Linked DNA regions of Homo sapiens: all the other regions are linked to region 3. Evidence: fine-mapped expression QTL. A gene starts in region 3. Each other region holds a variant in brackets. All regions are shown on one strand. Distances are from middle to middle.

The links. PIP is the estimated chance that this variant, and not a neighbour inherited with it, causes the effect. A credible set is the group of variants that fine-mapping cannot tell apart.
Region 1: its variant is the best candidate, but not a certain one, in a credible set for the expression of MRPL19 in thyroid (GTEx, PIP 0.51).
Region 2: its variant is the best candidate, but not a certain one, in a credible set for the expression of MRPL19 in amygdala (GTEx, PIP 0.64).

Annotation. Positions count from the first base shown.
Region 1 is chr2:75,672,695-75,683,080 of GRCh38, forward strand. GCFC2 (GC-rich sequence DNA-binding factor 2) reads right to left here. Exons shown (of 17, transcript NM_003203.5): 12 at 7,499-7,620; 13 at 750-826. It overlaps LOC124906025 (a long non-coding RNA gene), which reads left to right. Exons shown (of 2, transcript XR_007087113.1): 1 at 1-7,158. Among named protein-coding and RNA genes, the nearest start is that of MRPL19, 31 kb to the left of the region's middle. The variant T/C (reference allele first, on the strand shown) is at 7,531.
Region 2 is chr2:75,683,662-75,689,050 of GRCh38, forward strand. GCFC2 (GC-rich sequence DNA-binding factor 2) reads right to left here. Exons shown (of 17, transcript NM_003203.5): 10 at 5,365-5,389; 11 at 4,166-4,316. The region is part of intron 1 of LOC124906025 (a long non-coding RNA gene); the gene reads left to right. Among named protein-coding and RNA genes, the nearest start is that of GCFC2, 25 kb to the right of the region's middle. The variant A/G (reference allele first, on the strand shown) is at 2,808.
Region 3 is chr2:75,641,069-75,652,010 of GRCh38, forward strand. MRPL19 (mitochondrial ribosomal protein L19) reads left to right here and starts at 5,715. Exons shown (of 6, transcript NM_014763.4): 1 at 5,715-5,842; 2 at 6,034-6,151. The coding sequence starts at 5,740. It also overlaps the pseudogene SUPT4H1P1. RefSeq lists enhancers at 5,515-5,809, 5,645-5,944.

The DNA of each region.
Region 1 (10,386 bases), 31 kb after region 3:
GCTTCCTCTGTGCTAGGCCCTGTTGTGTTCTGAGCATTCTCTTCATCTCCCTAATATCCTGTGAGGTAGGCACTAATTTTATCCTTATTTTATAGATGAGAAAACAAGTGCATAAAAATACCTACTAACAGTGGACGTGTGCTCTTTACCACTCTATATCACCTGCTATGTTCCTAGGATATATGTAAAACCAAAACCAAAACCAACCAAACAAAATTCATCTAAGCGCCAAGATAAAGCACGGCTTTATGTAAGTCACTGAGAAATATTTGTTGAAATCTCAATTTGCATCCTCATAGAGTATGTGTACACATGTTTTGAAAACACTATAGTTGGCCGGGCGCGGTGGCTCACGCCTGTAATCCCAGCACTTTGGGAGGCCAAGGCGGGCGGATCACAAGGTCAGGAGATCGAGACCATCCTGGCTAACATGGTGAAACCCCATCTCTACTAAATATACAAAAAATTAGCCGGGCGTGGTGGCGGGCGCCTGTAGTCCCAGCCATGGGAGGCTGAGGCAGGAGAATGGCGTGAACCTGGGAGGCGGAGCTTGCAGTGAGCCGAGATCGCGCCACTGCACTCCAGCCTGGGCGACAGAGTGAGACTCAGTCTCAAAAGAAAAAAAAAAAAGAAACACAAAAAACAAAACAAAAAATAAAACACTGTAGTTTCTTTTGCATTGCATTCTTAAACAAATCTGTATTCTATGATCAGCTATTTCCAACAATCTAGAAATTAACAGCGCTTACCTCTTTGGATACAGAGGAATAAAAACATCATCTTCTACTGCCTTTTTCATTCTTGAAACAATGGATTTAAGTAAATCCTATTATTACAAATTTGAAAAGCATCAGTGATAGAAGATAGAAATGTATTTACCAAAAAAAAAGTAATTTTAACTGCAGTACAAATTTATCCACACTCACATAACCAGCTGTTAAAATAACTATCAATTGGGTACAAAAAAAACCTTATTTATCCATGTTGCTACATATGGGTATAGTTGGATCAATTTCATTGCTATATAGTATTTTGTTGCATGAATACTATTGATGGAACACTTAGGTGATTTCTGGTTTGGTGGCTATTATAAATAATGCTGCCATAAAAATTCTTGTACATGTCATTTAGTATGCATGGTCATACATTTCTAATGGGTATATAAATAGAAATGGAATGGCTGGAGTACAGTTCATGTCCATACGTTCAACTACGTACAAAAAACCAAACGGTTTCTAGAATAGTGGCATCCCATTTACATCATTCCTGCAGTATAAAATAAATCCTGTTTCACTACATACTTACGATAATTGGCATTTTCTTGTTTTTTAATGTTTGCAATTATAGTGGGTATGCAGTCATATTTCATTTTGTTGTTTTAATTCTCATTTAATTATCATTGAGTAATGTGCTGTTGGGCATCTTTTCATATTCCTATTTGCCACTTGGCAAGCCGTTTTGCAAAGTACCTAATTAAGCTGCTTGCCAACATTGCTATTTTTTTGTATTAGGTTCTGTCTTTTTATTACTGATTTGTACAAGTCTTTTATATACTCCAGCTGTGGGTCCTTTGTTGGAAAATCCACTTAGGGAAATCCATTTTGTTTGTACATAAAAAAATTGGAAATGACCAAACTATTCAATCACAGGGAATTTTAAGGAGATGTTACATCGCTCCAGTGAATCTATCATAAACTTTAGCTGAAGATTATGATGACTACAGTAACAGACAACTATAAATACGCAATGAGATAACATTAAGCAGAAGTAGTATACTAACTTACATGCCTATTAGGATTATAACTTTGAAAAAAAAGCCAGGATGAAAATATCCTACGATGGTATTAATCCTTGTACTAGGATGAAAGACAATGAGTGTTTATTTTTTTCATATATTAGCAATATTTATATTATTTATATAATGATATTCTTATTCATATTTGAAAAATAAAAATGGCATACTACACATTAGAGTAAAAGTTAATTTTTAAGTCAATGACAATGTATACAGCACAAATTCAACTGTCACATACTATATACTAACTGAATTATCCATAAATGTAGAATTCAAATATATTTTTCTTAAAAAGCATGACCTGAAGTCGTTTCTCTTTCCACTTAATTATCTATAACATATTCCTCAAGTGGCCATATATCAACATTTATTTAATGTTAAAAATTAAAACTCAGTTGTATTTTACTCCATTCTTTAAACATTCTGAATTCTGTTCAAAGAAAAAAAAGCATTTTCTAGACAGTATCTCCAAAAAATAGCATCTGAGTTTATGTAACTTACTGAGTTAGGTGTTCATGATACAAAAAAAGCTGCTTTGATTTTTTTCATTTAATTTTAATGATTTTGGATGCTGGCCTTGACAAATGTTCCCATATTGTTTAAATTTTGTTTCTTAAAATAGTTCTATTGAAAATGTTATAAAGGACATTATTGAATCAACTGGCAAAAGTGGAATATGGATGGTAGATTAAGTGTTGATAAATTTACTGAAATTGCTAACTACTCTGGTTATATAACATAATATCCTTGTCTTAACAAATATGCACCCTGTTCTCAGTACTCAGGAGAAAACATATTGTATGTATATATTTAAAATGGAAGGGCTAATGATAAAGCCAATGGGGCAAAATATTAATGACAAGTAAATCTTGGTAAAGGGAATATGGAAATACTACTCTTATTCATGAAAGTTTTCTTTCAAAGTATTAATATTTCCAAATAAATTGTTTAAAACAAAACATAAATTCACTGGCCGGTTGCCGTGGCTCATGCCTGTAATCCTAGCACTTTGGGAGGCTGAGGTGGGTGGGTCACTTGAGGCCAGGAGTTTGAGACCAGCCTGGCCAACATGGTGAAACCCTGTCTCTACTAAAAATAGAAAAAATTAGCCACACATGGTGGCACATGCTTGTAATCCCAGCTGCTTGGCAGGCTGAGGCACAAGAATCGCTTGAACACAGGAGGTGGAGGTTGCAGTGAGCTGAGATTGCACCACTGCACTCCAGCCTGGGTGACAGAGTAAGGTTCTGTCAAAAAAAAAAAAAAAAACAAAAAAAAGAAAAGAAACCTCCCATAAATTCACATATTTTAAAACCGTGAGATATTAACTTTTCTAAGTATTAAATAACATCATTTGTTTGATGGAAAATAAGGTTCTCCAAACAGTTTTAACAAGCATTCTGAATCACACTTTCAGACTCACATACAACCCTTTGTGTATATATATATACTTTGAAACAGCTTTAAAGAGGCACTTGTGTGATGCCAATGGTTTTTATGCTGTTCTCTATATCCATGGAGGTAATCCCAGGATGGCCTGGACAAATGTTGGGGATGGTTGGGGAAGAATAAAGGCAGGTGCTCACAACAGTAGGAGCAGTTTTACTTCTGTATGTGTGTTTGCGTATCGGATTGCGTAAGATTTATTTGAAATAGATTCTGTTGATAAAAAAGAAAAAACAAAAAATGAGTCTGAAAATCTATCTGAACTCCCAAGTGATGTTTAGACTTATTTTCACATTTCTACTAAATGGTCCACCAGCCATGTCTAAAACCATTTGCTGATAGGGGATCATTATCTCCTGAGGCTGCCCATAACTTTGGACTATTAGATTTCAGTTAACAATGAGAGTTAACAAACTTTTCCCTCCCACAGCTTCCACTCCTTGGTCTTGGTTTACTTCTTGGGATCATATAGAATAGAACTAGCCCCACTTCCACATGACAATTTTCTAGATTTTAAGATGAATATCATACTTTTTTTTTTTTTACATCTTCTCTTTCCCATACTATCTTAAGACACTCTCCACTTAATATGCTTACACCGAAAATTAAATGCAATATTCCCAGGAAGGTCTAATCTGTGGGTATTATCACCAAATATGCCATTCTTACTCAAAATAGCACACACATACTAGGAGAAACTCCCATGTACCTGTTTTCTGTTACTCAAGTGACACTGCTGACTCACGCTGGGTTTATTGATTATAATCTGTCTTACTTATGCTGCTTCAAAACTGTGTCTCTCTCATCTTTTACTTATATAGTTGAATTTTTAAACGCATGGGTGGGACATGCATTTATTTTTTCACAATTTCTTGAATCAGTCAATTTTCTACAATCTTTTGAAATCTTCTTGGATTCTAATTCTACCATCCACAAGTCTTACAGAATTCCTAGCTTTTTGTCACTGACACATTTCATTAGTATGTATTTTAACTCCTTATCCAGTTCAATAAAAATATTGAACAGGGCAAAGCTGAGAAGATATCTAATACTAACAGACTCCCCATAGGTAGCCAATGCCCTACTGGCCATTATTTTTTAGGTTTACTTAAGCTTATATTTCCCCATTTAATCCCTAAGAACAATCATAATAACAATTTGCTTCAATAAACAATGTTAAGTATCATTTGTATTTGGGAATCCTATCAATGACAGATTATAGTAATTACTGCTTTTTAAATTTAAGTATTCATAATCTTCCTCTATAATAATTTACTTTAGATTTTTAGTCAGAATCAAAACTATTATTACCAGGCATTAGCTTACAGCATTTCCTTCTAACTTTGAAAACAGAAACTATGTTGTCTGACTCAATTTTCATTCTTGAACCTCATTCTCTTTCATCACTGAAGAAATGGAGTGATCCCACTGGTGAACTGTCTTAGCAACATGGGGCATTATATAGTGTAAGTGATTCTCTACCAAGTGCCATTTTGCCATCCCTAGGGAATACCTGACAATGTGTAGACATTTTTGGTTGTGAAGACCGGGGAGTGCTACTGCCACCTAGTGGGCACAAGCCAGGGATGCTGCTAAGCATACTATAGTGCACAGGACAAACCCTCACAACAAAAAATTATCTGTTCCAAATGCCAATGTAGTGCTGAGACTGAAAACCCTGATGTAATCTATTCTCCTGCTTATGAAAACAACCCATTTTCTACATTCACAGCAGAGCGGTTTCAGAATAAAAACATCCATTATAAAAACTGCTTGAGTTTGCCTGTAATCCCAGCACTTTGGGAGGCCGAGGTGGGCGGATCACAAGGTCAGGAGATCAATACCATCCTGGCTAATACAGTGAAACCCCGTCTCTACTAAAAGCACACAAAATTAGCCAGGCATGGTGGCAGGTGCCTGTAGTCCCAGCTACTCGGGAGGCTGAGGCAGGAGAATTGCTTGAACCTGGGAGGCGGAGGTTGCAGTGAGCCAAGATCACACCACTGCACTCCAGCCTGGGTGACAGAGCAAGACTCCGCCTCAAAAAAAAAAAAAAGACTTCATGAGTGAATCCATAATACTGCTGAAGGGCTTCAGTGATCACAAAGAGCCAGGTCTACCACTTAGTATTCAAGTATTTCAAAAATGACTTAACCCTTCTGGGCCCCAGCTTCATCTGTAAAAATGCAATTAAAATAAATACATTTCACAGGGTTATGAGGATCAAATGAGACAATGTGAAAGTATTTAACAAATGGTAAAGCATAATGATTTACATTTAGGTTATAACTAAACAATACTATATGGAAAGCAAATGCAGGATTATATATCTGCTTCTTTGTAGCTTTTAACTACTAATCTTGGTTCTATGCTGCATAACAGCACAGAATAAATCTATACCTTCTTTGAATACAAACAGCATCTCTCTGTACATCTTTCAAATTAAATATCTCTAATTCCTGCAACAGTTTCCATCTATTTTACTTGAGTTTTTATCCTATTGGAGGTAAGCAGAAAATGCCTCTCTCTCTGTTGCCACATGTTGAAATCCTATTCTTTCCCTCAAGCCACAGTTCAAATGCCACCCCTAAGATAAATTATTTCCTTATCCCCACTGCTGAAGGTAACCTCTCTCTCCTGTCTCTCTCCTGAAGACACAGTACTTTATCTATGCTGCTCAAGGGGAGGCAACATGGTCAGTGAGGCAAACTTGGGCTTTAGAGGCAGACTATCCAAGTTCAAATCCTAGTGCTCATTCATAGTAGCACTGTGACAACTAGTTTTAAAGATTCATTTTCTTCATCTATAAAATGAGGCTGTCATCCTTTTAAGAGACAGGGTTTTGCTGTTGCCCAGGCTGCAGTGTGGTGGCACAATCAAGGCTCAATGCAGCTTCAACTCCTGGGCTCAAGGGGGAGCCCAGCTAATTTTTATTTTTTTGGTAGAGATGGATCTTGCTATGATGCCCAGGCTGGTCTTGAACTCTTGGCCTGAAGAGATCCTCCTGCCTCAGCCTCCCAAAGCACTCAGATATACAGGCGTGATCTGCCATACCTGGCGATCACCCATTTTTTAAATAGGGCTGCTGGGATTAAGATGACAGGTACAAGACCTTACAGAGTGCCTAGTACACAATTGGAATTAAATAAGTGTTTGTTATCTTCCCTACTTCTCCTTTTCACTTCCAGTTTTAAGTTACAGTTTATGTGCATCTTATTTTCTCTGAGATTACATGCTTCTTGAAGGCAGAATTAGGCTGGTATCCCTTTTCTCCCTTTCATTTCTTACAGCTATCCTCCTTTGTAATCACAGTTCCAAGGGCTAAAACTTAATGGTGCTCATAATATGAATATGATATGCCTCCTTGCTTTTCAACCACCTCTGTCATTCTACTCCGGGCATTCTCCAGTCTGTCAATTTCTCCTTAATTTCCTAAAGCTCAACCTAAAATTGGTTTACTCATAAAACTGCATGAATCTACAATCTCATCAACAAACAATAAAAAAAAATGCTACAATGAAAGAGTGAGAAGATTCTCAGCAACATCACTCTAAAAAGTTCCCCAATATGTCTTATGTTCACTGAATTCAATTCTAGATCATTGTAAGATTAAGATCTGTTTTACTGAACTTTGAATCCTTAAAGAGACTACTATTATTTGGTAGACTACAAATAACTAGTTAATACAATAAGTGTCAGTCTAATTTTGAAACCATTGTTCAAGCAAAGCCACAATGCCACTGGATTTTTGCCAAAAGAACAAAGGTAATGAGTATTGTTGTCTTCCTTTAGAAGAAATGAATTTGCACTAATGAATTTATACCGGTTCATCTCTGCAGGGCCAGTGTATATTCATAATCCTGAAAGATGGCTGCCTGGGCCATGAGAACACAAATCAGATCACTGAACAGAGAAAAGTAAGCTAATAGGAATGAAAGTCATAATCTGGGTCCTTACATGTATGTCTATAATTTAAAATGATTACCACTCCTATCACAGTGTTGAGAAGTATCAAGGTATATTCTTTCATCTTATTATTATAAAGATAAAAAATAGCCAAGTCCAGTTTAAAAAATTTTTTTTTCATCTCAGTGCAGTCTGAGAAAAAGTCTAGTTTCTATAAATCAAAAGTAAATATGTTTTCCCCCAAACAGTTTTCTGATAATCACTTCTGCATCTTTTATAAACCAAGATCTGTAAGAAAATTATAATGATTTAGAGATAGATCATGGAGTTCGCAACTCTAGAAATTATTACCTGTCTGCTTTTACTAACTTCATTTTCACAAG[T/C]GGAATGTTCTTCAAGAATCACTCTGCAATGTGTTATTAAACTTGTTGTCTGTGAGGTTGACAAAGGATCCCAAAGGAATTCTACAAAGTCTGAAACAAATATTTCAGTGGTACACAATGTATTTACTAGATTGTTTTGCTTTTCATATACAAATAATCAAGACCTTTAACAAACACTACTTCCCTCCTTATTCAGTTTAAGTTCCATGGCCAATTATTACCATTACATATTTGCATACATCTTCAATTTCCTTGTTCTTCTTGGGCTTTGTTAAACTCCTCTGGCTAAACTACAGCTCTTTATAGTTAAGTTCACCTTGTCACTGAGTCTCTGCCTGCAACCATGCAGATAAAAAGTGGCTGGAAAAACAAACACATTAACTTGATCACTATACAACTTGAGTGAGCCTCTCTCTCTCTCTGTCTCTCAGGTCCATTCACTCTCCCTCTCACCTAGATGATTACTTCATACCTTCTCCCCTCTCCGTTATCTCTCTCTCAGTTGATGGACTTTTTCCTTCTAGATGATTATTTCCTACTTTATTTTTTCTACTCCCTTGCATTCTCTTTCAGCTAATTACTTCCTAATTTGCTAAGAAAATAGAAGCAATCAGAAAAGCAGCACTATGAAGCTCCTACCACAGCATCTACACACCTACCTACATCTGTGCCGATATGCTCTAACTTGTCTCCTATTCCTATGGATGAGGCACCCACACTCCCACCACTTCAGGCAAACTGTTTATTTTGTGGATGAGATCCCAAGCCTTTTGGCTTAGTCTAAGATCCTGTTCCCAGAACACTGTCCTTCCACTTTGGTATTGACATCACTTGTACTAGATTTTTTCCATCACCCTACAAACAACTATTTATCTTGTATTAAAAATAATCCCCCTCAGTGTAAGGAGGCTGCCAAGATGGCCGAATAGGAACAGCTCCAGTCTACAGCTCCCAGCGAGATGGACGTAGAAGGCCGGTGATTTCTGCATTTCCAACTGAGGTACCCAGTTCATCTCATTGGGCCTGGTTGGACAGTGGGTGCAGCCCACAGAGGGTGAGCTGAAGCAAGGTTGGGTGTTGCCTCACCTGGGAAGCACAAGGGGTTGGGGAATTCTCTCCCTTATCTAAGGGATGCCACGAGAAACCGTGCCAGGAGGAACAGTGCACTCCAGCCCAGATACTGTGTTTTTCCCACGGTCTTCGCAACCGGCAGACCAGGAGATTCCCTCCAGTGCCTACCCCACCAGGGCTGTGGGTTTCATGCACAAAACTGGGTGGCTGTTTGGGCAGACATCAAACTAGCTGCAGGCTTTTTTTTTAATTTTTATTTTTTCATACCCCAGTGGCACCTGGAACGCCAGAGAAACAGAACCATTCACCACCCTGGAAAAGGGGCTGAAGACAGGGAGCCAAGTAGTCTGGCTTGGTGGGTCCCACCCCCACGGAGCCCAGCAAGCTAAGATCCACTGACTTGAAATTCTCACTGCCAGCACAGCAGTCTGAGCCCAACCTGAGATGCTTCAGCTTGGTAGGCGGAGGGGTGTCCGCCACTGCTGAGGCTTCAGTAGCCGGTTTATGCCTCACAGTGTAAACAAAGCCACCGGGAAGTTCGACCTGGGCAGAGCCCACCGAAGCTCAGCAAGGCCACTGCGGCCAGACTGCCTCTCTAGACTCCTCTTCTCTGGGCAGAGCATCTCTGAAAAAAGCCAGCAGCCCCAGTCAGGGACTTAGAGATAAAACCCCCATCTTCCATGGACAGAGCACCTGGGGAAAGGGGTGGCTGTGGGCGCAGCTTCAGCAGACTTAAACGTCCTTGCCTGACAGTTCTGAAGACAGCAGTGGTTCTCTCAGCACAGTGTTCGAGCTCTGCTAAGGGACACACTGCCTCCTCAAGTGGGTCCCTGACCCCTGTGTATCCTGTCTGGGAGACACCTCCCAGTAGGGGCCGACAGACACCTCACAGAGGAGAGCTCTGCCTGGCATCTGGCGGATGACCCTCTGAGACGAAGCTTCCAGAGGAAGGAACAAGCAGCAATCTTTGCTGTTCTGCAGCCTCCGCTGGTGATACCCAGGCAAACAGGGTCTGGAGTGGACCTCCAGCAAACTCCAGCAGACCTACAGCTGAGGGGCCTGACTGTTAAAAGCAAAACTAACAAACAGAAAAGAATAGTATCAGCATCAACAAAAAGGATGTACCCTAAGAGACCCCATCTGAAGGTCACCAACATCAAAGACCAAAGGTAGATAAATCCACAAAGATGGGGAGAAACCAGTGCAAAAAGGCTGAAAATTCCAAAAACCAGAATGCCCGTTCTTCAAAGAATCACAACTCATCACCAGCAAGGGAACAAAACCGGATGGAGAATGAGTTTGACGAAGTGACAGAAGTAGGCTTCAGAAGGTGGGTAATAACAAACTCCTCTGAGCTAAAGGAGCATGTTCTAACCCAATGGAAGGAAGCTAAGAACCTTGAAAAAAGGTTAGAGGTATTGCTAACTAAAATAACCAGTTTAGAGAAGAATACAAATGACCTGATGAAGCTGAAAAACACTGCATGAGAATGTCGTGAAGCATACACAGGTATCAATAGCTGAATCGATCAAGTGGAAGAAAGGATATCAGAGACTGAAGATCACCTCAATGAAATAAAGCGAGAAGACAAGTTTAGAGAAAAAAGTGAAAAGAAACAAACAAAGCCTCCAAGAAATATGGGACTATGTGAAAAGACCAAATCTATGTTTGATTGGTGTACCTGAAAGTGATGGGGAGAATGGAACCAAGTTGGAAAACACTCTTCAGGACATTATCCGGAAGAACTTCCCCAACACAGCAAGGCAGGCCAACATTCAAATTCAG
Region 2 (5,389 bases), 40 kb after region 3:
GTGTCAAGACCCATCAATGTGCTGTATTCAGGAGACCCATCTCATGTAAAGAGACACACACTGGCTCAAAATAAAGGGATGGAGGAATATTTACCAAGTAAATGGAAAGCAAAAAAAAAAAAAAAAAAAAAGAAAAAAGAAAAAAAAGCATGAGTTGCAGTCCTAGTCTCTGATAAAACAGACTTTAAGCCAGCAAAGATCAAAAGAGACAAAGAAGGGTATTACATAATGGTGAAGGGATCAGTGCAACAGTAAGAGCTAACCATCCTAAATAAATACGCACCCAATACAGCAGCACTCAGATCAGATTCATAAAGCAAGTTCTTAGAGACCTACAAAGAGACTTAGACTCCCACACAATAATAGTGGGAGCCTTTAACATCCCACTGTCGATAACAGACAGATCAATGAAACAGAAAATTAACAAAGATATCCAGGAATTGAACTCAGCTCTGGACCAAGCAGACCTAATAGACATCTATAGAACTCTCCACCCCAAATCGACAGAATATACATTTTTCTTAGCACCACATCACACTTATTCTAAAACTGACCACATAATTGGAAGTAAAACACTCCTCAGCAAATGCAAAAGAATGGAAATCATAACAAACAGTCTCTCAGACCACAGTACAATCAAATTAGAACTCAAGATTAAGAAACTCACTCAAAACCGCACAACTATATGGAAACTTAACAGCCTGCTCCTGAATGACTACTGGGTAAATAAAGAAATGGAGGCAGAAGTAAAGATGTTCTTTGAAACCATGAGAACAAACACACAACGTACCAGAATCCCTGGGACACATTTAAAGCAGTGTGTAGAGGGAAATTTATAGCACTAAATGCCCACAACAGAAAGCAGGAAAGATCTAAAATCGACATCCTAACATCACAATTAAAAGAGAGGATGTGGAGAAATAGAACACTTTTACACTGTTGGTGGGACTGTAAACTAGTTCAACCATTGTGGAAGACAGTGTGGCGACTGCTCAAGGATCTAGAACTAGAAATACCATTTAACCCAGCCATGCTATTACTGAGTATATACCCAAAGGATTATAAATTCATGCTGCTATAAAGACACATGCACATGTATGTTTATTGTGGCACTATTCACAATAGCAAAGACTTGGAACCAACCCAAATGCCCATCAATGATAGACTGGATTAAGAAAATGTGGCACATGTACACCATGGAATACTATGCAGCCATAAAACAGGATGAGTTTATGTCCTTTGCAGGGACATGGACATGGATGAAGCTGGAAACCATCATTCTCAGCAAACTAACACCAGAACACAAAACCAAACACTGCACGTTCTCACTCATAAGTGGGAGCTGAACAATGAGAACACATGGACAGGGAGCGGAACATCACACACCGGGGCCTTTTGGGGGTCAGGGGACTGGGGTGGGATAGCATTAGGAGAAATACCTAATGTAGATGACAAGTTGATGAGTGCAGCAAACACTATGGCACGTGTACACCTATGTAACAAACCTGCACGTTCTGCACATGTACCCCAGAACTTAAAGTATAATAATAAACAAACAAAAAATCCCCCTTAGCCCTACTTCCTCCTCTAGTATTGTTCCATTTCCCTCCTATCTTTTACAACAAAATTCCTCAAAGTACTATCTAAACTTCTATCTCCAGTTTCTCTCTTCTCACTTGTTCTTGCTTTCCCTTTAATTAGGCCTTATCTCTTATCAGCCTACCTAATGCGCTCTTAGCAAATCACAGATGACATTCACATAGCAAACTCCAATGATTGATTCTAATCCTCATCTGACTTATCATCAACAATTCCAACAGTTGACCCTTCTTTCTTCCTAGAAACACTGTCTTTACTTGGCTTCCAAAATACCACACTCTTAGTTTCCTGCCCACCTCTCTGGTCTTTGCTGTCTGCTTGTCATCTCTTTGACTTCCCAGTGCTATAGTATCTCAGGATTCAGGTCACTTACCTTCTCTTTTCGGTTTATATTCACTCGCTTGGTATTCAAAGTCAATTTTATACATTAAATGCCATCAATAAATGTCATGTGGATAAATTCCAAACTTATACCTTCTGACTGGACCTCCCCCTTTAAGACTCATGTATTCAACAACTGACTTGACATGTCCACTTAGATTACAGGTACTTCAAAATCAACATGTCCCAAACTGAGCTGCTATGCTAATACAGCTCCCCACATTAAGCTTACTCCTGTCAGACTTTTTCATTTCAGGAAATGGCACCTCTGTCCTTCCAGTTGCTCAGGCCAATTCCTCAATGGACCCATTCTTGATTCCTCTCTTTCTCTCTTGCTGCACAACCAATCCATTAGCACATTCTGTTAGTGCTATCTTTGAAATATATGTAGAATTCAATCACTATTTGGACTCAGTCAGTGTTAATTTCTCACAAAGCTACTTATTTGTGGGACTGTTTCATCATTAGTATTTAGATTTTTTCAGCAGAGTGCTTAAACTAGGCACATGCATTCTATCATTAGTAGAGTTAGTTAAAAATAGTAACTTTCTAACACACCCCACAAATGCACCATAAGTTTCATTGAAATAAAATCTTGAAAGTTTTTATTTTTTATTTTTTTTAAATTTTAAATTTATAAATAGAGATGGGGTTTCACCTCGTTGCCAAGGCTGGTCTGGAACTCCTGTGCTCAAGCGATCCTTCTGCCTCGGCCTTGCAAAGTGCTGGGATTACAGGCATGAGCAACTCCACCCAGCCAAAATCTTATAATCAAGTTGCCTAAGAAGCAATTATAAGGCTAATTGCTTCCAACTTCTAGGCTGGGC[A/G]TGGTGACTCATGCCTATAATCCCAGTGCTTTGGGAAGCTTAGGGGAAGGGTCTCTTGAGGCCAGGAGTTTGAGACTAGCCTGGGCAACAGAGCAAGACCCTGTCTCTAAAAAAATCTTTTAAAAATTAGCTGGGTATGGTGGCACGCGCCTGGAGTCCTAGCTAATTGGGAGGCTGAGGCAGTAGGATCACTTGACCCCAGGAATTCAAGACTGACTTGAGCAATGTTCACACCACTGTACTCCAGTCTGGGTGACAGAGGAAGACCCTGTCTCAAAAACAAACACACAAAAAATTAAATAAGAGTTTTGCAGTCTTTGCTGTCAAATTTCTTTCTCAGTGACATAGTGAAACGGATCCTTATCAAGTACACAGGTAAAACAAAAGACTTCATGCTAAGGTCTGAAGCACAAGCATTAATGTTAAGTGCTCATAGCTGCTAGTGGCAAATGTGAGTGAAATGAAGCAATTTTTTTTTTTTTTGAGACGGAGTTTCACTCTTGTCACCCAGGCTGGAGTGCAATGGCACGATCTCGGCTCACCGCAACCTTCGCCTCCCAGGTTTAAGCAATTCTCCTGCCTCAGCCTCCTGAGTAGCTGGGATTACAGGTGCCTGCTACCACACCCAGCTAGTTTTTTGTATTTTTAGTAGAGACGAGGTTTCGCCATGGTGGCCAGGCTGGTCTTGAACTCCTGACCTCAGGTGATCTACCTGCCTTGGCCTCCTAAAGTTCCAGGATTACAGGCATGAACCACCACTCCCAGATGAAGCAATGGTTTTAAAGAAAAGGATAAGAAACACAATTAGAGAAGTTAAGGGGAAAAAAGGACACATGTAGTATGGATGGAAGTGTGCTAAAAAATGACTGAAGTGCCATAAAAGCAGCGGGAATGCCACAAACACTAAACTGACTTTAAATACTAAGTGACTGAAGTAAATAGAACAGAGAAGGTAAGTGACCTGAATCCAGAGATACTGTAGCACTTGGAAGTCAAAGAGGTGACAAGCAGACAGCAAAGACCAGAGAGGTGGGCAGGAAACTAAGAGTGTGGTATTTTGGTAGCCAAGTAAAGACAGTGTTTCTAGGAAGAAAGAAGGGTCAACTGTTGGAACTGCTGATGATACGTCAGATGAGGATTAGTGATCAATCTGAGTATTAGCAGTTTGGTAGCCAACCACCTGTACAAACACAAATTTTTTAACCACCTTACATTTGACAGCTGTTGATTTTTACTACATATAACATTTCCTTGAGATTAAAAACTTATGAAAAAACTTTGTGAATATAACAGAAATTAACAACCTTATATACTCTGTCAGAAAATAATTTAATTTTACCAAGGTTACGAAGCAGTACCTGTAAGTCGGGGAATAATTGTTTTGTTGATGATTGCAGACAAGACTTTTTTATCTGAACTACTTTCCTTCTTTGAATCTTCCACACTGCTATCCATAAATTCTTCTACAGATTTGAACCATGGCATCTCTTTTAAACCTGTGGATTCCAACTTACAAAGAAAATTACAAAAGTTATAAAGAAATCTTTCAACATTAGTGTATTTTTAAATAGTTATTATTTTTTTCAATAATCACCAGAGCTTTTCTAAGGATCAGAAGAGATTAATTCCCTATTTTAACACTAGACCACCAAGGCTAGGCAGGATTGCAGGACAGCATGACTGAGACATGGTGTCTAAGTAACATAAGAAGAAGCTGCATTTCATGCATTCAATCACACAACAAACACTCAACAACTACCTAGTGTGTGCCGGAGCCTTTAGACCCTACCACATGGCAAGTACTCTGCTTGGAGCAAAATACAAATTTGTTAGGCACTTGAAACAGCCATGGAATTTGTTTATAAAAAAAATTCATCCACTTCAAGCAAAGTTTATTTCTGGCCCCTTCAATTCACTAAGCATAAATATGTAATTTGTATGTGATTTAGTTAAAGGTCCTATTACACAGTAGGCAGTTGCTGAGTTCATACTTCTTTTTTTTTCTTTTAGTCAGTCAAATTCAGTGAACAGAGTTTATATTCCTTAACTTAGGATCTAAATATCTGTGCAATTTCTAGCTCCTGAACTAATACTTCTCCCTTTACACCTTTATGAAACACCTTTCCCTTTCTGATTCATCCTGTTTACCCCATAAACTCTTCAAAGGCTTGCATTCCACCTTCTCAACACAACCCTAAGCAACTCTTCCCAGTATGTCATCTCCAACTTAAGAATTCTTGAAACAAGGCTTTTATATCTACTTTCTCCAAACCCAACAGTACCTTATACTTTCTGGGAGGATTTTAAATTTAATGTACAAGAAGCTAAAAAAAAATGTGTTTGCTTTACTGATGTTAATGATGCTTAGCCTAAAAATCAAGTGACAGCCAAGAAAAGAAGAATGTAGCCGAAAGCACACATTTTCTGACTATTGTTCCAAAGCTCTAAATTTCAGCTCCGACTCTAAGGGTAAGGTATTTAATGCCTAACACAATAGTAAGGGAATTTAAGCAACTAATATAATCAGGATAATTTTTCATATGTTAAGCATAAATACCTTAAGAGGATTCCAATCAATCAAC
Region 3 (10,942 bases):
TCTGGTGCAGACATAAATGAAGGAAGTTGTAGACAACAGTTGTCAAGTTCTCTGATTCCATTGATGAAATCCTCCCTAATAGGAGACTTAGCTTGTTGCCAATAAACACTTGAAACCTATATTAAACTCCCTTTGTTCCATGTTCATCAAGCAACCCCTTCCATATGTGACATTAAATTTTGCCTTCCGAGAGAGAAAGTCGTGGTCACAAAGACATAAATGTTCTGGTATTCTGGTCAGCATATTATTTTTTGTTCACTTATAAGTTAATAAACTAGCATTTAGTTTTGTCATATCAATTTCAAAAATTTGGTTCATGTAAGTCTGCCCTAAATGATGTATCTATTTAATGCTGTGCTGAAAATCAGGTTCTGGGCTTCCAAAATCAAAAGTCAGACCCAAGGCCATGACAAATTCTCCAAAGTCAATATTATCTGTGAGGCCTTGAAGTATATATTTTGCCTGGATGAAGGAACTTCATGTTGCCACATAAGCTCACCCCCACCACACATACACTCCTTTATTCACTATCTATTACTATTTAATAAATTGCTCCTAAATTAAGCAGCTTAAAACAACAAACATTTATTATTGTACGGTTCTGTGGGTCAGAAATCCAGAAGTGGCTTAGCTGAGTGATTTTGACTCCAGGTCTTTCACAATGCTGCAATCAAGAGGTTGGCTGGGGCTATAGTCAACTCAAGGCTCAACTAAGGGAAGGTCTGCTTGCCAGCTCATTCCTGTGGCAAGAAGCAGCCTTGCTGGCTGTTGGCTGGGGACATTGGTTCCTTGCCATATGGACCTTTCCATAGGGCAGCTCATAACAGGTACCTGGCTTCCCTCAGAGTGAAGCAAAGGAAGTAAGAACTATCATAGTCAGTGCATTTGTGTTTTTATTTTATTTTTTTAAATTTATTTATTTTTTCGAGATGGAGTCTTGCTCTGTCGCCCAGGCTGGCATGCTAGTGGCGCGATCTCGGCTCACTGCCACCTCCGCCTCCTAGGTTCAAGTGATTCTCCTGCCTCAGCCTCCTAAGTAGCTGGGATTACAGGTACGCCACCATGCCCTGCTAATTTTTGTATTTTTAGTAGAGACGGGGTTTCACCATGTTGGTCAGGCTGGTCTCAAACTCCTGACCTTGTGATCTGCCTGCCTCGGCCTCCCAAAGTGCTGGGATTACAGGTGTGAGCCACCACGCTCAGCTGTGTTTTTAAAATAGTGTATTGATTTTCATTGTAAAACCAAAATGTACCTATTACAGAAAATGTAGCTAGAAAAATTGCAAAAGCAGGGAACACGCTTAATCTCACCACTCCATCTATGCTTTGTGATACTTAATCATAAATTCTATGTCTAGGTGAATGTCCAGAAGAGTATGCCCTAGGCTTTATTCTAGGATTTTTGTAGTTTGAGGTCGTACATGTAAGTCTTTAACTCATTTGGAGTTAATTTTTGTATGTGGTGAGAGGTAGTGGTCTAGTTTCATTCTTTGGCATATGGTCAGCCAGTTTTCCCAGCACCGTTTATCGAATAGGATGTCATCTCCCCACTGCTAATTTTTGTAGACTGTTGAAGATTAGTTGGTTGTAGGTATGCGGCTTTATTTGTAGGTTCTCTATTGTGTTCCATTGGTCTGTTTGTTTCTTTTTGTACCAGTACCATGCTGTTTTGGATACTGTAGCCTTGTAGTATAGTGTGAAGTCAGATCATGTCATTCCTCCTGCTTTACTCTTTTTGCTTAGGATTGCTTTGGCTATTTGGACTCTTTTTGGTTCCACATGAATTTTAGAATTGTTTTTTTTTCTAGTTCTGTGAAAAATGATAGTAATTTAATAGGAATGTCGTTGAATATGTAAATTGCTTTGAGCAATATGGACATTTTAGTGACATTGATTCTTCCAATCCATGAGCATGGGATGTTTTTCCATTTGTTTGTGTCATCTATAATTTATTTCAGCAGTGTTTTGTAGTTCTTGTTGTAGAGATTTCATCTCCTTGATTAGGTGTATTCCTAGGTATTTTATGTTTTTGGTGGCTATTGTAAATGGGACTGCATTCTTGATTTGGTTCTCAGCTTGAACACTGTTGGTGAATAGACATACTACTGATTTTTGCATATTAATTTTGTATCCTGAAACTTTACTGAAGTTGTTTATCAGGTCTAGGCGTCTTTTGGTAGCATCTTTACGGTTTTCTAGGAATAGGAGATTCTTTTTTTGGATGTGTTAATACATGAATCAGATTATAGTTTCCTCTTGCTGGCATCTTTAAAATAAGTTTTACAAAAAGCTTTTTTTTTTAATTAGGTGAAGGATATGTTAATTAGCTAAACTGTGATAATCATTTCACATTGCATACATATATCAAATCATCATGTTGTACACCTTAAATATATACAAATTTTTATCTTTCAATCATGTCTCAGTAAAGTTGGAAAAAAAGAATTTTATTATGATCTATACATTTATCTGCAAACTTTATGCATTATCACAATTTAATCCTTATACCAACCCAATGAGGTAGGCATACCTCTATCCTATTACCCATGAAGAAGAAAAGGCAGAGATGGGAACCTCTCTCAAAGACTCCAGTTAGTACATTTCAGAAATTTTTTTTACTGACTCTACCTCACAAATAGATGGAGAGACAGAAAAAAAAATACCACTTTCTATCTCTATTGCCTCTACCTCAATTGTTCCCAAATTGGAACAACTATCAGAATCACCGGAGGATTTGCTAAAGCACAGATCACTGGGTTCTGTGCCCAGAGTTTTAAATTCAGTAAGTCTGGGGGCGGGACCTGAGAATTTGTAATTTTAACACGTTCCCTGGTTGTGCTGATGTTGCTAGTCAAGGGCTCACACTTTAAGAACCATTTTTTTTTTTTCTGTTCCAGGTTAGCACCATCTCTCTTTTGGAATATTTCAATAATTTCCTGCTTCCCAGCCATTTTCTAAAGTACAATCAGAATGATCTATCTAATTTTACTTAGAAATATTTATTGGGTGCCAGATACTCTACTAAATATAGAGGATGTAATAACAAGCAAAACCGACAAGGATCCTGATGTCACAATAACCTGAAGCAGCCAGTTTGCCTGGAATACTTTCTTCCCTTGGCTGAACATTATGTAATGATGTTCATGATCTCCTTTCCAAGGGTGTAAAACACAGAAGTAAATAATTAAAGTTCTATTCCTGTGATCAGCTCATAAAATGGTTGAGCCAGCTCTGTGCTCTTTGATTTTGCTCTATGAAGTTGTTTAATAACAACTTAAGTTGGAATAATTTAAACTCCAGCTTGTTCTCCAAATTAAGATAAGGTCAAAACGGCCTGATATATGTTGGATGAGCAAGAATACGGGAGAAAATTAGATAAGATTCTTTAGGTTCATTCTTCCAATTTTGTAAAACTCTACACAACTATTCCTTCATCTGTGGAAGAGGAGAGGGCAGCAGGAGTGGCTTGGCAATGTCTAGTAAATCCTGCTGTCCTCCTGTGAAGGTCTGTCTTTTATTTCTCTGCCCCTACCTTTAGGACCAATCCCAGCAAGAGTGAAGGCCACGTGTTCTGGGCATGGTTAATACAGAAAAATCTTCACCACTGCCAGTCATGATTATCTTTGCCTCTCCTCCCTTTTACTCTTAAGGGCTTGAAGTCTACTTTTTCGGGTAGGTAGAAGAGCCAAAATATTGCTCATCTGAAATTTTGGTTGTGAGATTCCTTGTCATTTATAGAATAAATTCTTGTTCTAATCAAAGAAGCTAGAGTTAAAATAGAAGGCCCTGTCTTTCTTCACAGCATCTTGAATTCTGTGCTCAAAACATGGCCCTGTTCCTCAGGCTGATGTAACAGCTCATGTTCTTCAGGATGGCAAGTCAGAGTATAGAGGCCAAGCTGCAGAGGTTGGTTGCTTTTATGAGCATTTGACTTCTGTCAAAAGTAAACAGTAAGGCTTTAAACTGGGGAAAGGAAAGAACAGGGTATGCATTTCTGAGCCATCTTTTTTTGGTTGCTGCGTGAAGGACTGGAGGTAACCAGAGGCAAGAAGACTAATGAGAAGGCTGTTGCAGGGATCTCCAGGGATCCTGAAGAGAGAAAATATGTTGACCTAGATTGGAAATATGGATGGGAGGATGAGAAAGTATATGGATTCCTGAGATATTTGACGGTGTCAGGCATAGTTTTTGGAACTTCATCCAGGAGGAGACAGGGAGGAATCAAGAATGGCACTGAGATTTTTGGCTTAGGCAAGAGAGTGGATGCTGAAGCCATTCCTTGAGATAGCCAATACTGGGAAGGAAGTCTGGAGCTGAAAAAGATGAACTCAGTATGGATAGGCTGAATTTGAGGTAGCTTTGGGACATTAATGCAACTGGAATGACTATTATGTAGTTAAATTATCACATTACTCTAAGTGTTCAATCCTTATATAACCACTGCTGAAATAACAAATTCCAAATTTCTTTTTTTGTGTGTGTTTCTTTTTCTGTTTTTTTGAGACGGAGTTTCGCTCTTGTTGCAATGGCGCGATCTCGGCTCACTGCAACCTCTGTCTCCCAGGTTCAAGCGATTCTCCTGCCTTAGCCTCCCAAGTAGCTGGGATTACAGGAGCCTGCCACCACACCTGGATCATTTTTTTTATTTTTGGTAGAAACGGGGTTTCACTATGTTGGCCAGGCTAGTCTCAAACTCCTGACCTCAGGCGATCTGCCCGCCTCGGCCTCCCAAAATGCTGGGGTTAAAGGCGTGAGCCACTGCGCCCGGCTGTGTGTTTGTTTCTTAGAGATACGGTCTCACTATATTGCCCAGGCTGGTTTCCAACTCATGAGCTCAAGGGACCCTCCTGTCTCGGCCTCCCACAGTGCTGGGATTACAGGCATGCCTGGCCACGCCCAGTCATTTTCCAAATTTCTTAACAAGACTTACAATTTACCTTTTCCAGCTTTACTTCTCCCACCTATCCATACCCACAGTTGCCCAGCCCAAATTCATTTGGGTTCCTCAAAGGGTTAATGCTTTGTGTAGTCTCAAGGACTATGGGCCAGCAGTTCTGTCAGGAACTATTCTATTCTCTTTTCTGTGCATTCAGCAAAGAATTAGAAAAATTAGCTGGGCGTGATGGTGCGAGACTGTAGTCTTGGCTACTCGGGAGGCTGAGGTGAGAGGATCTCCTGACATCAGGAGTTGGAGGCTGCAGAGCCATGATCGCGCCACTGCACTCCAGCCTGGGTAACAGAGGAAGACCTTGTCTCAACAAAACAAAAGATGTTAGTGAGGGCCCAGGTAGGTGCTAGGTGCTGGGATAACATGGTGAGCAAAAAGAAGACTTTATCCCTTCCCTTGCCTCATTATAGTATAATGGCAGATTTAAATACTAATCTAATAATTACACAAGAAAGAATTGCAAATGAGATCAGAGCTGCCAATCGAAGGCACCCAGTGGGAAAGACGGCCTACAATGGGATTTTCGCATAGCGAAAGCTTGTCTGAGAAGATAGAGTGGATTCATAGGGGGAGGAAAAAGCTTTCTAGGCTGGGAGAACACCCCTGTGGAGGGGTGTAACTTGGCGCATTACGAGGAACTAGAGAAACGTGCACTTTTCCTAAGACATCAGGAAAGGAGCGAGGAGAGACTTATCCATTTTGTCCCATAGCAGCCGCCATATGGTGGCAGACAGCAACAACCTCGTCGCACTGATTACTGGGAGCTGTAGTCTTGACGTGAGCTAGCTGGCATGGCGGCCTGCATTGCAGCGGGGCACTGGGCTGCAATGGGCCTAGGCCGGAGTTTCCAAGCCGCCAGGACTCTGCTCCCCCCGCCGGCCTCTATCGCCTGCAGTAAGTGGAGCCGGACTTGCGAGCTGGGGCGCGTTAGGGGCCCAGGGTCAGGATGGGGGAGGCGAACCTGGAGATCAGAGGCAACCCCAGCGTTGGTCCCCCGTGGGACGCCGGGTTGGGGGAGATTGCGGGGCTCTGCGGGATCTCAGGGTTGGCACGAGAGTTCTGACCTCCGTCGTCCGCTCCCGCAGGGGTCCACGCGGGGCCTGTCCGGCAGCAGAGCACTGGGCCTTCCGAGCCCGGTGCGTTCCAACCGCCGCCGAAACCGGTCATCGTGGACAAGCACCGCCCCGTGGAACCGGAACGCAGGTGAGGCACTGCCCTGGCGCTAGGCCGGCAACTGGGGTCGGTGCGCGCGTGAGCGCGTTCGCGTTCGAGGTCCCGGCTCTAAGGTGGGGGCTGCACCTCCCCCTGCACGAGCAGGTGTGTAGGATTCAAGAGCCAGCGCACCACACTGTTCTTTCTTTCTCACTTCTCCCCAAGCCAGCATTGAACTTCTTTGCAGTTTTATTGAGTCAGAACTTCAAGTAGGGGTTCCCCATATTTTAAACTCTTTTCTCTGTGGTATTTGTCCTGTACCAGAGTTTTTCTCTGAGGTATATCCTGTTTATACCTGTTTACGTCCAAGAGCTCTTCTTTTCTCTCAAAAGACCCTTAACCCTGGATAGGAATCGATTGGCCAACTTAAAAAATTTGCTATGGTTTAGGTTGGAAGTTTTGGCAGACAAAGCACAGTAAAACTGGCCACTAAATTGTGTCTGAAACTTACTCATCAAAATAGTGTGAATAAAAACTTATATGAATGGTGGTAATCTTGGAGGTACATGTAAATTTAAAGGACTTAAGGTCTGAAAAGAGAGCTATGTAGCAACCTTTTTAAAAAGCCAGTTTTCAGAGGAAAAACCTGATATGATTATAGGCTTTTTGAAAGGGCTGTAGATTATTGATTGGATTACTTCTGGGATTTTTAATTTTTTTATTTTTTAAATTTTTTTTAGACAGAGTCTCTCTCAGTCTCCCAGGCTGGAGTGCAGTGGTGATTTTAGCTCACTGCAGCCTCAAATTTCTGGGCTCAAGTGATCCTCCCGCCTCAGGCTCCAGAGTAGCTGGAACTACTGGTACCACGCCTGGCTTTTTTTTTTCTTTTCTTTTTTTAACATTTAAAATATTCCACGGATTTAAATAGAAGTAAACTTGGAGTTAGAGAACTAAGAGATTCAGAAAATATTTCTTCATAAAACTTTGCTTTTGAGGGTAGAAATGGAATATCTCTTTTAAACAGTGGCATTTAATAGAATTCACTTAAATAGGAATGTAAATTATATGCTCTAGAGAACAATTTGACAGAATTTACTAAGTTTAAGTTGTGTATACCTTCTCACTCAGAAAGCACACAACTTAAACTCCTAACGTGTATGTACAAGGAGACAAGCACGAGAATGAATGTAACAGTATTTTTTGTAACAAAATTTAGAGGCAGCCTAGATATCCATCAGTAGGTGAACAGGCAAATACATTCATATGACAGAATATTGTATAGCAGTGAAAAATGAGTGAATTAGAGCTCACTTTTAAACATGGAAGATTTTCACAAATCTGTGTGTAAAAAAAACCTTTAGAATCATTAATGTAGTAGGATGCTATTTTTATGAAGTTTTAAAACTATAGGCCGGGTGCGGTGGCTCACGACTGTTATCCCAGCACTTTGGGAGGCCGAGGAGGGCAGATCACGAAGTCAGGAGTTCGAGACCAGCCTGGCCAACATGGCGAAACCCCCATTTCTACTAAAAGTACAAAAAAAAAAAAAAATTAGCCAGGTGTGGTGGCATGTGCCTATAATCCCAGTTACTCGAGAGGCTGAGGCAGAAGAATTGCTTGAACACAGGATGCCGAGGTTGCAGTGAGCCGAGATCGTGCCACTGCACTCCAGCCTGGGCGATAGAGCAAGACTCTGTCTCAGAAAAAAACAAAAACAAAATTATACGAAACAATATATGTTGCCCAGACATACATGCATATGAAAAGTAAAAAGAAATGTAAGGGGGGCCTTCTGAAACTTTGCCAAACAGTCAAACCTAACTTTACCAGTATTGGTACCAGTTGATATTATGTGTCTCCTGATGTGACAGAATAAGTTGTTCACATCATCTCCCTGTAATATTCTTACTAAAATTATTTAACCTTAGTCTAGGCATGTGGAAACAATCCAGAATCCAGAGATGAGATAGTAGGCCTTGACTGTTCAAAAAAGTTAATGTTATAAAAATACAAAGTTGGAAAAAAGTCCTAGTCTGAGAGACTAATGACCAAATATGTGTGAAGCTTGATTGTATTTTGAATTGGGCAACGAATAGATGTAAAATACCTTCCCAGGATAATGACATACATTTGAGTATGAACTCTGTATTAGACCAAGCTTGTCCAACCCACAGCCCAGGACAGCTTTAAATGTGGCCCAACACAAATCTGTAAACTTTCTTAAAACATATGAGATTTTTTTTGTGCCTTTTTTTTTTAAGCTTACCAGCTATTGTTGGTGTCTTTTATGTGTGGCTCAAGATAATTCCTCCAGTGTGTCCCAGGGAAGCCAGATGATTGGATACCTTTGTATTAGATTATGTTATCAAATTAATGCTGACTTTTATAGGTGTCAGAAGGGTATCGTGATAATATAGGAGCAAGTCCTTATTCTTAGCATAAGCCTTCTAAATTATTGAGGGATGAAATGCCTTGCTGTTCCATTTTTTTGAGACAGAGCCTTGCTTTGTCATCCAGGCTGGAGTGCAGTGGCATGATCTTGGCTCTGCAACTCCTACTCCTGGGCCCCTCCCTACTCAGTCTCCCAAGTGGCTGGGACTACAGGTGCCCGCCACCATGCCTGGCTATTTTAAAAATTTTTTTGTTGTAGAATGAGGTCTCACTATGTTGCCTAGGCTGGTCTGGAACTCCTGGGCTCAAACGATCTACCCTCCTCGGCCTCCCAAGTGTTGGGATAACAGACGTAAGCTACCACACCTGGCTGACATTTTCAAATGGTTCAGAAAAAAATGATATGTGTATATAAAGCAAATATAGCAAAATTTTAGCAGTTGGTAAAAGTGGATGAAAGATCTACAGGTGTTCATTGTATTACTATTTTTTGGTAGGCTTTAAAATTTTCAAAGTAGAAAATTGAGGAAGAGAAAGAAATTCATGGGAATAATCACCAAATTTAGGATAGTAATGAACTATCCTAAATACACAGGGGCTTCCACAATATTGATAATTTATTTCTTGAGGTGGGTGGTAAAGACATGAATATTCATTGTACTGTCATTTATACTTTTTATGTAGATTAAATATTTCATAATGAGCTTAAAATCAGTTAAAGAAGAAAAAAAGAAGATTATTATTTTTTAAGCAAAAGGATTTCACCTTTGTAAGACTTACACAATTTTCACATAGCTTCATTTCTACAATCACAACAATCCTGAGGTAAACAGGCAGGGTCTAATCATTCTCTTTTTACAGAGGGAGAACCAGCAACTTAGGGAAATCAAAACGGGGACACTAACAGGATTTCTGTGGAAATTTAAGTAAATGAGAATTTATGGTGAATTTTTTATTCTAAAACGAATACCTCACCTTGGCCAAAATGGGACATTACCCAAGGTCCCCTACTAGGCCAGAGGAGAAAAGGAAGGACTTACCTCCTACAGAGGCACAAACAAGGCAGACTAGGACCCAGCAGTTGCCTAAGGCCCAAGGGTCTCCAGTTAGGAGAATGTGAAATGCAGGGATGTGAGACTGGCCTAAGGTATAGGAAGAGCGGTAAACAGAAGAGAAGAGACGAGGAGGGGGAAAAGCAAGAATTATTAAACGTGGTCAAGGAGCGAAGAGCACTATGAAGCCTCAGGATTTCTTCAAGGGATACTGCTGTGCCAGGTCTAGAGGGCAGAAAGATACAACCACGAGACCCCAGGACTACCAAGCTGATGGGATTACCTAGCCTCTGGACAGCACCTTCTGATTGGAAGCAAGGAAGCACACTAGAAAGGCTGCAGTACAGAAGGCTCAGAGACAGTCAGTAGGGAGTAGAAGGGCCTCTGCTGTTCTGGGAAGATTCTTACAGCATAAACAAGCTCTTACTGTGCCTAAGAGAAAGGGAGAGGGAGGCAAGGAATGTATCATGGCCTTAAGAACTTTCTAGAGGTTCATATTTATTGGCATTTGACCTAGAGTCCTTGCCATGGGCAAGGTGCATCCCTGGGCCATGGATAGGAAAATCAGCATCCTACTTTCTCTTCAGTTCGATCTGTTAATCCACCAACCCAAATCCCTCCCACCCGCACCTGTCATCCAAGGAAGAGAAAATGGTTCAGGGACACGATGTGCTGCAGCTGTGTCTCTGGATTTGTAGGTCTCTCCTCGACTTTTCAGCTCCTACACGATTCCTTGGGGCAGGTGACCAGTGAATGACACCGCATATGTACCTGGCTTAAAGTTACTGACTCGCTGCCACTTGGAGACCTAGCTGTCCTCTGGACTCATCATTGCAATGATTCCATCAAAGGAAGAGCTAGTGCAGTCATATACCATCTCAGTTACTCTTCGTCTGTAGATAGGTGTTACAGTTGTCAGAACCTTCATATTCAAACTGGTCTATAGTCTTGACCAGCAAACACAGCCAACAAGCCTGCAGATGCCCCAGGTCCTTCAGCACCATCTCCAGGGCCATCTTCTCTGATCAGGAAGATCATTTTAAAAGTCAATTTATAATTAGTGATTTATATGTTGATGTCTTTTCTGACATAATTTATTATAGCATGTATAGCTCAGTGTGAGGCCTGTAGTAATGGTTATAGGCTTTGGAGACTGACCAACATACCTACATTTAAATCTTGATTTGACAGATTTATAGCTAATGTAGCAATGGGTTAGTTATTTACCTTTTTCAAGCTTCAGTTTCTTGCTCTGTAAAAAGGAGATGACACCAAACCCACATGGTTGCTAGAAGGATTAATTTATGCTATAGATGTTTCATAAAGCTTTTAACAAAATACCAGGTGAGTACTCAGGAATTGTTAGCTATTTTCATGAGCATTAACAATTTTAGAAATA